2 separate regions of the Homo sapiens genome follow, and region 1 is reported to be linked to region 2. The links are microRNA targets in miRTarBase. Many come from high-throughput screens and were not tested one by one. Region 2 holds a microRNA gene; the other region holds the end of a gene's coding sequence.
What was found. The annotated mature microRNA hsa-miR-3121-3p reads UAAAUAGAGUAGGCAAAGGACA and lies in region 2 at 2,768-2,789, shown strand. An mRNA with a match to its seed (bases 2 to 7 or 8) in the 3' UTR can be bound and repressed. Matches are read on the target gene's strand: a 7mer-m8 pairs with bases 2 to 8, a 7mer-A1 pairs with bases 2 to 7 and ends in A, and an 8mer does both.

Region 1: miRTarBase lists MFSD6 as a target of hsa-miR-3121-3p. Seed matches in the 3' UTR shown: 7mer-A1 at 1,363-1,369.

The regions. Positions count from the first base shown.
Region 1 is chr2:190,499,690-190,504,764 of GRCh38, forward strand. It overlaps MFSD6 (major facilitator superfamily domain containing 6), which reads left to right. Exons shown (of 8, transcript NM_017694.4): 8 at 326-2,625. The coding sequence ends at 529. It overlaps NEMP2 (nuclear envelope integral membrane protein 2), which reads right to left. Exons shown (of 9, transcript NM_001142645.2): 9 at 4,649-5,075. Among named protein-coding and RNA genes, the nearest start is that of NEMP2, 32 kb to the right of the region's middle.
Region 2 is chr1:180,436,037-180,441,111 of GRCh38, reverse strand. It overlaps MIR3121 (microRNA 3121), which reads left to right and starts at 2,722; the gene lies at 2,722-2,798. The region is part of intron 3 of ACBD6 (acyl-CoA binding domain containing 6); the gene reads left to right. It also overlaps the pseudogene VDAC1P4.

The DNA of each region.
Region 1 (5,075 bases), not on the chromosome of region 2:
GCCACATGGCTTGGGGGGCTCAGTAAATATTTGCTGATGTAAACTGTTTACCAAGTACTAACAGACATTTTGGTAGTAATGTTCCTTTTTCCACAAGACACGTCTGCTTATAGTGTTTGTGTTTTTCATGCGGCTCTGGCAGTTGCACATAGGAAAGGAGATGAAAGGTAAGACATTCTATCCTTATTCCTCTATTACTTGGTCCCTGAAATGGGCACTTCCGGATGATCTCCCCATGTTTCCTGTCTTACTTGAAAGCATATATAAAAAGTTGGATTTATTTGCTATCACTGATCATGGGGCATCTCCTGTTTTTTACCTCCAGGGGACCAATGAGAATAGGGAAAATTCTCCTGCTGGTAGAGCCCAGCCTGTCCCATGTGAGACTCACTCTGACCCATCTAGAAACCAGCCATCCCCTGACGCAGCAGCATCTCAGACGCAGACCAGCCCCGCTCACCCCAGTGTGGACCCGTGCACAGAGGAGAGTGAAGAGCAGCAGGCTCAGCTGGCCGCGGGAGGACACTGAGGGCATCCTGCTCATCTCACACCCTGCATGGAATCAGGCTCCTCAGCCAGGACACAGGGTGAGGCCCCCCAGCCAGGATATGCCTCCCCTGGAGGAGCACAGCACTGCATATGCTTCTAAATATCTAAACTCATTAACATGGAAACACACACACAGGAGCTACAGTACATATTGGCAGGAAAAGGTAAACTTTCGTAATCTCATTGGAATTACAACAGGGAAATGGAGTTCAATGAGGACTTTCAGTTCTTTGCTTGGTTAGGTTAAGGATGATAGAATTTCTCTGCCAGTGCAGTAAGAGTTGAAACCGGCAGTTACACTAAGTAAGTGGAGGGAATGAAAGTGTTTCGAGGTGAATGTGGATATAATTTCCCTCTTCTGATTATTTATTCTTATTTGGTTCCTAACACAAACTGGGAAGAGATAGAATTCATCTATACTTTCTTTTTTCTTGGAGAGAACCGTTTAAAAAATTACAAGATATATTTAAAAAGTAACCAGATAAAAGTAGCACATGTGCTTTTGTTAAAAATAAAGTTAAAAGTTAAAGTTAAAAAATGAAGTTAAAAGTTTCATCAGAAACTTTACATATCTTTAGCAAATATATTTTTATATGTGTATGGCATATAATGGAAATAATTCTTTGAGCAACAGAAGCTATTATTAACTACTGCAAGCTAAGCCGAGCTTAAAAATGCCTTTTGTTTTAAATGGGCTTTGAGAAAAAAAACAGAAACAAGCGATTATTTCAAATCAACCAACCAACTCAGTATCCTGTGTTTTGATAGACAAGAGTTTACTAAATATATTGATACTGTAAATAGCCTCTCTCGCTATTTACTATCTTATAGTAATTCAGGCTCTAATTAGCTGAGGGAATGAAACACACAAAAATCACTGAATTCCTAAGAGTTCCTTAAATAAGCAGTACTAGTTACAAATCACAGTATAAGATTTAAGTGCCTGGGGGAAGGATACAATTTTTAGAAATTACATATTGGGTCAGTTTTGTTTTGTTTTTGGTGAGGAAAAGGTGGTAAATAGGAAACCATGAATGGGAAGGATGGCAATAAGTAGCAACTATACTTTCCAATGACTAAAGAAAGAAAATCTCAGTATATTCGTTCTCATGAAGACACAGTCAGACACTGGACAATGTAATGTATGCAACTGCAAACGTTACAACTGCAGCCAGAACAATGGCTGGGTGGATCGCACGTAAAGCTTGCCACTAAAAATCAAAGCAGAGGTTAACAGGAAACCTGGGGGGAGTGTGGAAAAGGGAAAACTGTTTTAGCTGAATAAAGGTGAATTATATAATTTATAATAGCTGTGGATGAGCACAGGAGAGAGAGGAAAGAAAAGAACAGTCGAAATGAGCAACTCACCTTACCCTCTGACCCTGATTAGACAGGATCAATTGTAAAGTGAGGGCTTCTCCATGACACCATAGTTCTGCCCAATACTGCATTTGGGATAAGAAATTCTACACTTGGATGTCTCGCTTCACAATAAAACACAGCTTAAAAATAAAATAACTGAAAGAAATAGAATTCAGCAAATAGTTATTTTTTGCACTTGAACTGAAACGTACTGTACTGTAAATTATGACTCATTTTAAGTGACCTTTAAAATCAGATGTATTTATTATGCTTGTGTAATTATAGAAATAAAGAAATGGGTGACAGGCTTAACCTCACCTATGAATGTACAGTATGTGGATTTGTGAAACTGACTGTAGGAAGTCAAAAACTTGTACTGTATCTTGTGTTTACAGTTCTGATTTATTCCTTTGAAAAGCCTGCTGTTTTGGAAATGCACAGTTGACATGTTGAAATAAAAATGAATACCATTTTTAAATGTTTCTTAAATGATAAAGATGTGACCAAACAAAAGTCCTATACTCTAATGAATGAGACCAAATTCAACATGCCTTTGTTATGGAACATTTACTGTGACAGCAGAATCGATAATGCAGTCATTTCCAGCCTTGTGAGCTGACACCTTCATGGGTTTGTGGACTTTGTGACTTTTTCTTCCTGTCCCCAAAGTGCCATATGCTACCTTAAAAAATATTAAAGTGAATTCAAATTACATTTTGATTTGAGATTTTGTAACCCCTCTTGAGATCCCTCAACACACACAGGGGTGTCACAGAGCCCAGGCTGGTAATCACTGCCTTAATGACTTACTTCCTACTCTTTCTCCTATGGTTGTAGAAACAGTAAATTACCGAGTGCTGAGCTTGTGTGGATCCAAAGTGGTTAACTGCTAATTATTGAACTATTCCTCAAGTTTTAGGAATAGATTATAATACATACATTGTCCAGCAGGCAGTAAACCTCATGAAAAGTGTTAAGGAATTCACAGGAAGAGCAACCCTGCTTTACTGGCTTATTAATCCTGCCATGGGTCACATGAAGTGGATAGCTGGCTAATAGCTTCCCTCTAATTGGCAATTCCTTCCAGTACTGCTGAGGTACTGAGACCATTACTTAGGCAATATTCCTCTCTGCCAATTTGGAGTTCAGCAGGGAATCTAGGAAAAGGGAACCACATCCGTGGATATTGGGTGCTTGTAGTGTGCTGATGAGATTATCATTTTGCCCTTAACAAAAACTGGAGGTGTTCCTATCACTATCCCCATTTTAAACAAGAGAATTCTGAAGCTAACAGTTTAAGTTATGAGATCAAGGTCACAAAGCCAGGATTCAAACTCAAATCTTCCTAATGTCAAAGCCCTGGTCCGCTTAGCACCTTACCCCACCCCAGGAGGCAGGGAGGCCATTCCCTGCATCTGTTATGGCAGAGGAAGCCATAAAGCAGCCCAGCCTGAACCATTACCATACATGCCTGATATGTGTATGTGTGTGGTTGTATTTCCATTTAGGATTTCTAGATATTCCTAGATTCCTAGAAATGCTTCAAATTCCTGATGCTTTGTGAAATGTAGGTACACCAGACCCTTTACACTCTGCAGGTGAGTTGGCTGGACTGATAACTGCACAGGAAACCCAGAGGTTGGTAGGGACTCTGGCCAGGGCCATGGAAATCAGGAAGGGAAAGCAGACACACCCACAGCTCTGTACTGTCCGGTAGGACTTACTGGGAAGATGGGAAGTTCTCTATTTACACTGTCCAGGATGGTAACCATAAGCCATATGTGGCTATTAAACAACTGACATGTGGCTAATTTTCTGGGGAATTAGGTTTCTAATTAATTTTAAATAGCCACACGTGGCTCAAGGCTACCATACTGGACAGCACGGGTATACAGGAAGAGATCCTTTCGGGAGATCTCTGGGCCTGTTTCCTCAGCTTCAGTGTGAGAGGTTAGAGCTTAAGGTTATGTTGATTCTATGAAAATGAAGGTATGCTTTGACAGTGACTGTAGGGAAGAAAGAGGTGATTTTCCATTTGGAAGTTCTTCAGCCCTTTGGAGCATGGAGACAAGACAAAGGCTACTTCTGAAGCCCCAAACCACTCCTGGGCTTGTTTAGCAAAGCCTTGAGAATATCTGGCTTAAGAATTCCAAACCATGGGGCAGTTGGGAGAGAGGCTGGTGCCTAGGTGGGGACAGAAAAGGGGTGAAAGGGGGAGTGGTTTGTCAGATCTCAGAAAGTAATTTACACTATGCCAGGACAAACTGTGGCTTCTTATAAGGGAGTAACTGGAAACTTGCTGATGTCTAACATGGGGGGAAAGTGAGCCAGTCCGGCTAAGTGCCAGTCCAGCTGTGTACCTAACTCTCAACCAGCTGCCATCTGCTTCAAGCAGCTAATATAGGACCACTTGTCCCCCACTGTGGCTCCAGGAAAGTCCCAGTTTTTAGATGGCAACCCAAGGACCTTACAATGTTGGGGTTAGGAGTGTGCGCCCTGGAGTCACACTGTTTGCATTTGAGTCCCAGCTCTGCCAGTGAGAACTTACACACACATAGAACATCTCTGGGCCTCAGGACCCACCTCTGTAAAACGGAAGTGATTACAGTAGGTATGTAACAGGTTGATGTTTAAAATGAGTTATCTGACATACAGTGTGTGCTCCATAAATACTGCCATTGTTGTGCAGCAAAGAGCCCGGGGCAGGAGGAGCGCTGTCTCATTTCCCCAACCAGGGTCTAGTTCTATTATTTTATTGCCATTTAAATCTATAATCATATTCCATTCTCCCAATCTACAGTGCCATACTATACATATTTACCTATATCTAGTAAGCTGTACAGTAAGGCATTCAATTCCAACATGCATTGTAAACATTAAGTGGTTGGGGATATGAGTTAGTTAAGAGACAAAATTAAGCAAAACTTAAGTTGAAGAGGATGGAAAAAAGTGATGATGGTGACAATTCCATAAAGTGCAAAAGTCTGCTGAGAGAGGTTATAAGTTTCATAATTTTCATTTTTCTTTTTCTTCTTAAAGGTGTCAACAAAAGTAAACAATTTTATAATCATTTAACAAATTATATACCATACTCTCTCCAATAGTCAGTGTAGGATGCTATTCTTTTAAATTGTAAACTTACATTTGAAAAAAGGTCGGATTTT
Region 2 (5,075 bases):
TGGTTCCTCAAAAAGTTAAAAATAGAATTACCAATTCTTTTGGGTATATACAGGAGTGGAATTGCTGGGTAATTTGGTACTCAAATACCTGTATACAAATGATCATAGCAGCAGTATTCACAATAGCCAAAAGTGCAAACAACCCAAATGTCCATTAACTGATGAGTGGATAAGCAAAATTTGGCATTGTTGTATACATATAATAGACTATTAATCATAAAAAGGAATGAAGAACCGATACATGCTATAATATAGATGAGCCTTGAAAACATTAAACCAAGTGAGAGGCCAGACATGAAAGATTACATAGTGTATGATTCAATTTATATGAAATATCCAGAATGGTTAAATCCATAGAGACAGAAAGCAGATTGGTGTTGCCAAGGTTTTGGGGGAGAGGGGAATGGGGAGTGACTGCTTAGTGGGTTCAAGGCTAAAGGTTTGGGGGAGAGGGGAATGGGGAGTGACTGCTTGGTGGGTTCAAGGCTAAAGGTTTGGGGGAGAGGGGAATGGGGAGTGACTGCTTAGTGGGTTCAAGGCTTTTTGGGGGGAATAACAAATATGTTGTGGAACTAGATGCAGTTGGTTGCACAATATTGTGAATGTATTAAATGTCATTCAATTGTACATGTTAAACTGGTTAATTTTATGTGAATCTCATGTCAATACAAAAAGAAGTAAACGTGAAATAAAGACTTTTCAAGGCTGGATCTGGTGGCTCATGCCTGTAATCCCAATACTTTGGGAGGCTGAGATGGGCAGATCACTTGAGGTCAGGAGTTCGAGACCAGGCTGAACAACACATTGCAACCCCATCTCTACTAAAAATGCAAAAATTAGTCGGGTGTCATGGTGGGCATCTGTAATCCCAGCTACTCTGGAGACTGAAGCAGGAGAATCACTTGAACCCAGGAGGCAGAGGTTGTAGTGAGCTGAGATTGCACCACTGCACTCCAGCCTGGGCCACAGAGTGAGACTTCATCTAAAAAATAAAAATAAATAAATAAAAACTTTTTCCAAATAAACAAAAGCAGGTAATTCATTGCCAACTGAACTGAACTATAGTAAATTTTAAAGGAACTTCACATGAAAGGAAAATTATATAAGATGGAAATTTGGACCTCCATAAAGGAATGAAGAGTCCTGGAAGTGCTAAATATATGGGTAAATTTAAAGACTTTTTTTAAATTTTAAAATCTCTTTAAAAGATCACTGAACTTCCAGTTTCAGCCTCAACATGTGAAGAACCTGCAAGTTATCACTCCTCTCCTTAACAATAACAGTAATCTGACCAAACTGAAAATCAAAGACTGTTCTAGATCCATCAGAGATTGAGGTACCAGTTCAAACTGCCATCCCCAAAACTGGAGAGACAGGTGAATACAGAGAATCATAACCAAGATAACAGAAGATGCTTGGGCCATAAACTGGTAGAAACACTTCAATGGTAATGGATGAATTGCTTGAGGCTGAGTGTGGACTAGGGAGTCAAAAACTCCTCCCCAGTATTTTTTTTTTTTTTGAGACGGAGTCTCGCTGTGTCGCCCAGGCTGGAGTGCAGTAGCGCAATCTTGGCTCACTGCAAGTTCTGCCTCCTGAGTTCCACCATTCTCCTGCCTCAGCCTCCTGAGTAACTGGGACTACAGGCGCCCACCACCATGCCCAGCTAATTTTGTTGTTGTTTTATTTTTAGTAGAGACGGGGTTTCACCATGTTAGCCAGGATGGTCTCGATCTCCTGACCTTGTGATCCACCCGCCTCGGCCTCCCCCAGTGCTGGGATTACAGGCGTGAGCCCCCACACCCGGCCCCTCCCCAGTCTTAGTAGGGCCTTCCACTTTGGTAGGTTTTATCTCCCAGAATCCCATTTACGGTAAAGAGTCAAGAAAAATCTTGTGTTTTGGGCCAGGGGAAGGAGCATATAGTTAACACTACTGAGTTAAATACCAAAAATGGTTAAAATGGTAAATTTTATGTTTACAATAATTTAAAATTTTTAAAAAGAAATGAGCTATTAGACCATGAAAAGACATGGAGGAACCTTAAATGCATAATGCTAAGTGAAAGAAGCCAATCTGAAAAGGCTGCATACTGTATGAGTCTAATCATTTGACATTCTGGAAAGAGTAAAACAAAGCAGTGAAAAGATCACTAGTTGCCGTGGGTTCAGAGTATGGAGGAGAGTGGGGAGGGAGGGAAGGGTGAATAGGTAGAGTACGGGATTTTTAGGGCAGTGAAACTATTCTGAATGGTACCGCAGTGGTGGGTACATGTCATTATATGTTTGTCAAACCCATAGAATGTTCAATACAAGAGTGAACCCTAATGTAAACTATGGACTTTCATTAATAATAGTGTATTAATATAGGCTCATCAGCTGTAACAAATGTGCCACTCAATGCAAGATGTTAGTAATGGGGGCAGTGGGTGGGAGAGTTGTATACATGTGAGAGGTATGAGATAACCCTATTTTTTGTTCATTTTTCTGTAAACCTAAACTTGCTTTAAAAAGAAGTCTAAATAAAAAAGAAAAAAGAACTATACTTATTTTTTTTGAACTACCACGTAACTCTTAATTAGTAGTCTTTATTTCACAGCAAATAATTACCAAGTGGACCATAGCTATCTCTTCCCAATTGTCTATTTCACTTTAAGAGAGTCAATGAATGGCGCCAATAGAAGCTATGATTGTCTCATGAACAACCTTGTCTTATTGCTTCTTAAATGGTTATGTCCTTTGCCTATTCTATTTAAGACACCCTGTACCTTAAATAGAGTAGGCAAAGGACAGAAACATTTTAAGTTCTCTAACACAGCAGTCCCCACCCTTTTTGGCACCAGGGACTGGTTTAGTGGAAGACCATTTTTCTGCAGCAGGGATTAGGGGGCCAGTGTTGGAGGGGGATGGTTTCAGGATTAAACCATTTGACTTCAGATCATCAGGCATTAGATTCTCATAAGGAGTGCGTAACCTAGACCCCTCACATGTGCAGTTCACAATAGTCTTCACAGTCCTGTGAGACTCTAATGCTATTGCTGATCTCACAGGAGGTGGAGCTCAGGTGGTAATGCTTGCTCAACCGCCACTCATCTCCTGCTGTGCGGCCAGGTTCCTGACAGGCCATGTATTGCTACTGGCCTGCAGCCCAGGGGTTGGGGACCCCTACTCTAACATTCTGTGCATACCCTCATCATAGGGCCTTTGCACTGGCTTTTTCCTATGGCTGGAACAATCTACTCCAGATACCTGCAAGACTCACTTCTTCACTTCCTTTGTCTTTATTCAAAGGGCCTTCTCTAGAAGGCTTTCCCTAACCATCTTATTCCAAATTATAACCTTGTTCCTGGACCTGTTTTTTTTCTTCATAATACTCCTTAGGTTTTAATATTGGAAAACTTATTCATTTATTGTCTGTCTCTGTCAGACCTAACCTGATTTTTGTGTGACGATTTTGTATCCTGCAACTTTGCTGAATAACAGATTGGGTGGAATCTTTAGGATTTTTTTACATATAAAATCTTGTTGTCTGTGAACAGATAACTTTACCTCTTCCTTTCCAATTTGGATGCCATTTTAGGAAAAACTTTCAAACTGTGTTTTTCCTCTGCTCTCATACCACTACAACAACAGAAGACTTCTGTGACCAAATACGTGGGGATTTCTCCCCAACATTATGTGAGCAGTTCTGCAGCAGACACCAACTGGGTATCCTCCTAATCAGTTCTGACACTAGGTGCCTAGAGATAGTGTCAGATTCCACAGGTTGAGGACTCAGTCCCCAGGACTGCCTCCCACCCCTTGACCAGTCACAAGCCCCGGTCTCCAGAATTTCTTACCAACTGGCTTCAAGTTGTGGTTCCCATGACCCCCTCTTTGGGTTCAACTGAGTTCTGGAGTGGCTTACAGAACTCAGGGAAACACATTTGCCAGTTTATTATAAAGGATGTTACAAAGGATACAGATGAAGATGTCGAGGGAAAAAAGCCAAACTGCAAAGTATTTGAAGAGATTTATTCTGCACCAAATGTGAAGACCATGACCCATGACACAGCCTCAGAAGGTCTTGAGAACATGTACCCAAGCTGATGGGGTTATAGCTTGATTTTATATCCTTTAAGGAGATATGATAGCATTAACATTGGCCTGGATACCATCTTGAATAGAAGTGATGAGAATAGATATCCTTGCCTTGTTCCTGATCTTAGAAGGAAAGCTTTCAGTTTTTCACCACTGAGTATGTTGTTAACTGTGGCCTTTTCATATATGGCCTTTATTATTTTGAGGTAGTTTTGTTTTTGTTTTTGTTTTTTGAGGTTTCAATATTTTATTCAGGTTTTTTTAAAGTGATGTTAATTACAGCATTTGAAGGGGAGGATCTAATTCCACACAAAATGGAAGACTCTAAAATGTACCCATTAAACTGCTAAAAAACAAATTGAGTGGTGAGAATACAACAGAAGTCCAATTTAGATTCTGAGTGTTGTCACCATGTGATTACAATCATACAGACACTTCTAAGCTTATAGGTGGAGCTCCTGGAAGCTATTTCATACTCTGGTGCAAGGGCAAAAAAACACAACGCAAGAAGGAATAAGTCCTGAATTATTGGCTTTATCACGTCCACCCTCTCCACCCCAAAATGGCACAAAAGAATCGTGACCACACCACTCTGCAGACGTTTTGGTGTAAAAGAGGTGACGATGAACTGGGGTGGGAACAGGTCATGAAGATATGTCTAAAAAAAATCCCATTCAGGTGAGTTTGTACACACCATCAAGTAGTGAGCTTCTCATCAATTAGGGTTAGATAAACAAGGTTCAATTCTCAGGAAATCACAATTTCTTTCATTTACTCAATATGAATTTACAAAGTGCCTACATATTATCAGCTTCCACTTGCAGCCATTTCTAGATAAAAAAGAAACCTGATATCTCAAAGGGGCCACCAAGTTACCCCCAAGTCTACCACTGAAAGGACCTTTTTTGGAAATGGTTTTCTTCTGTACCTCTGAAAGGGTAACATCTTAAAGCTGAATCATCTTTAACCTGGAGGTCTAACATATTTAGCAATACTTG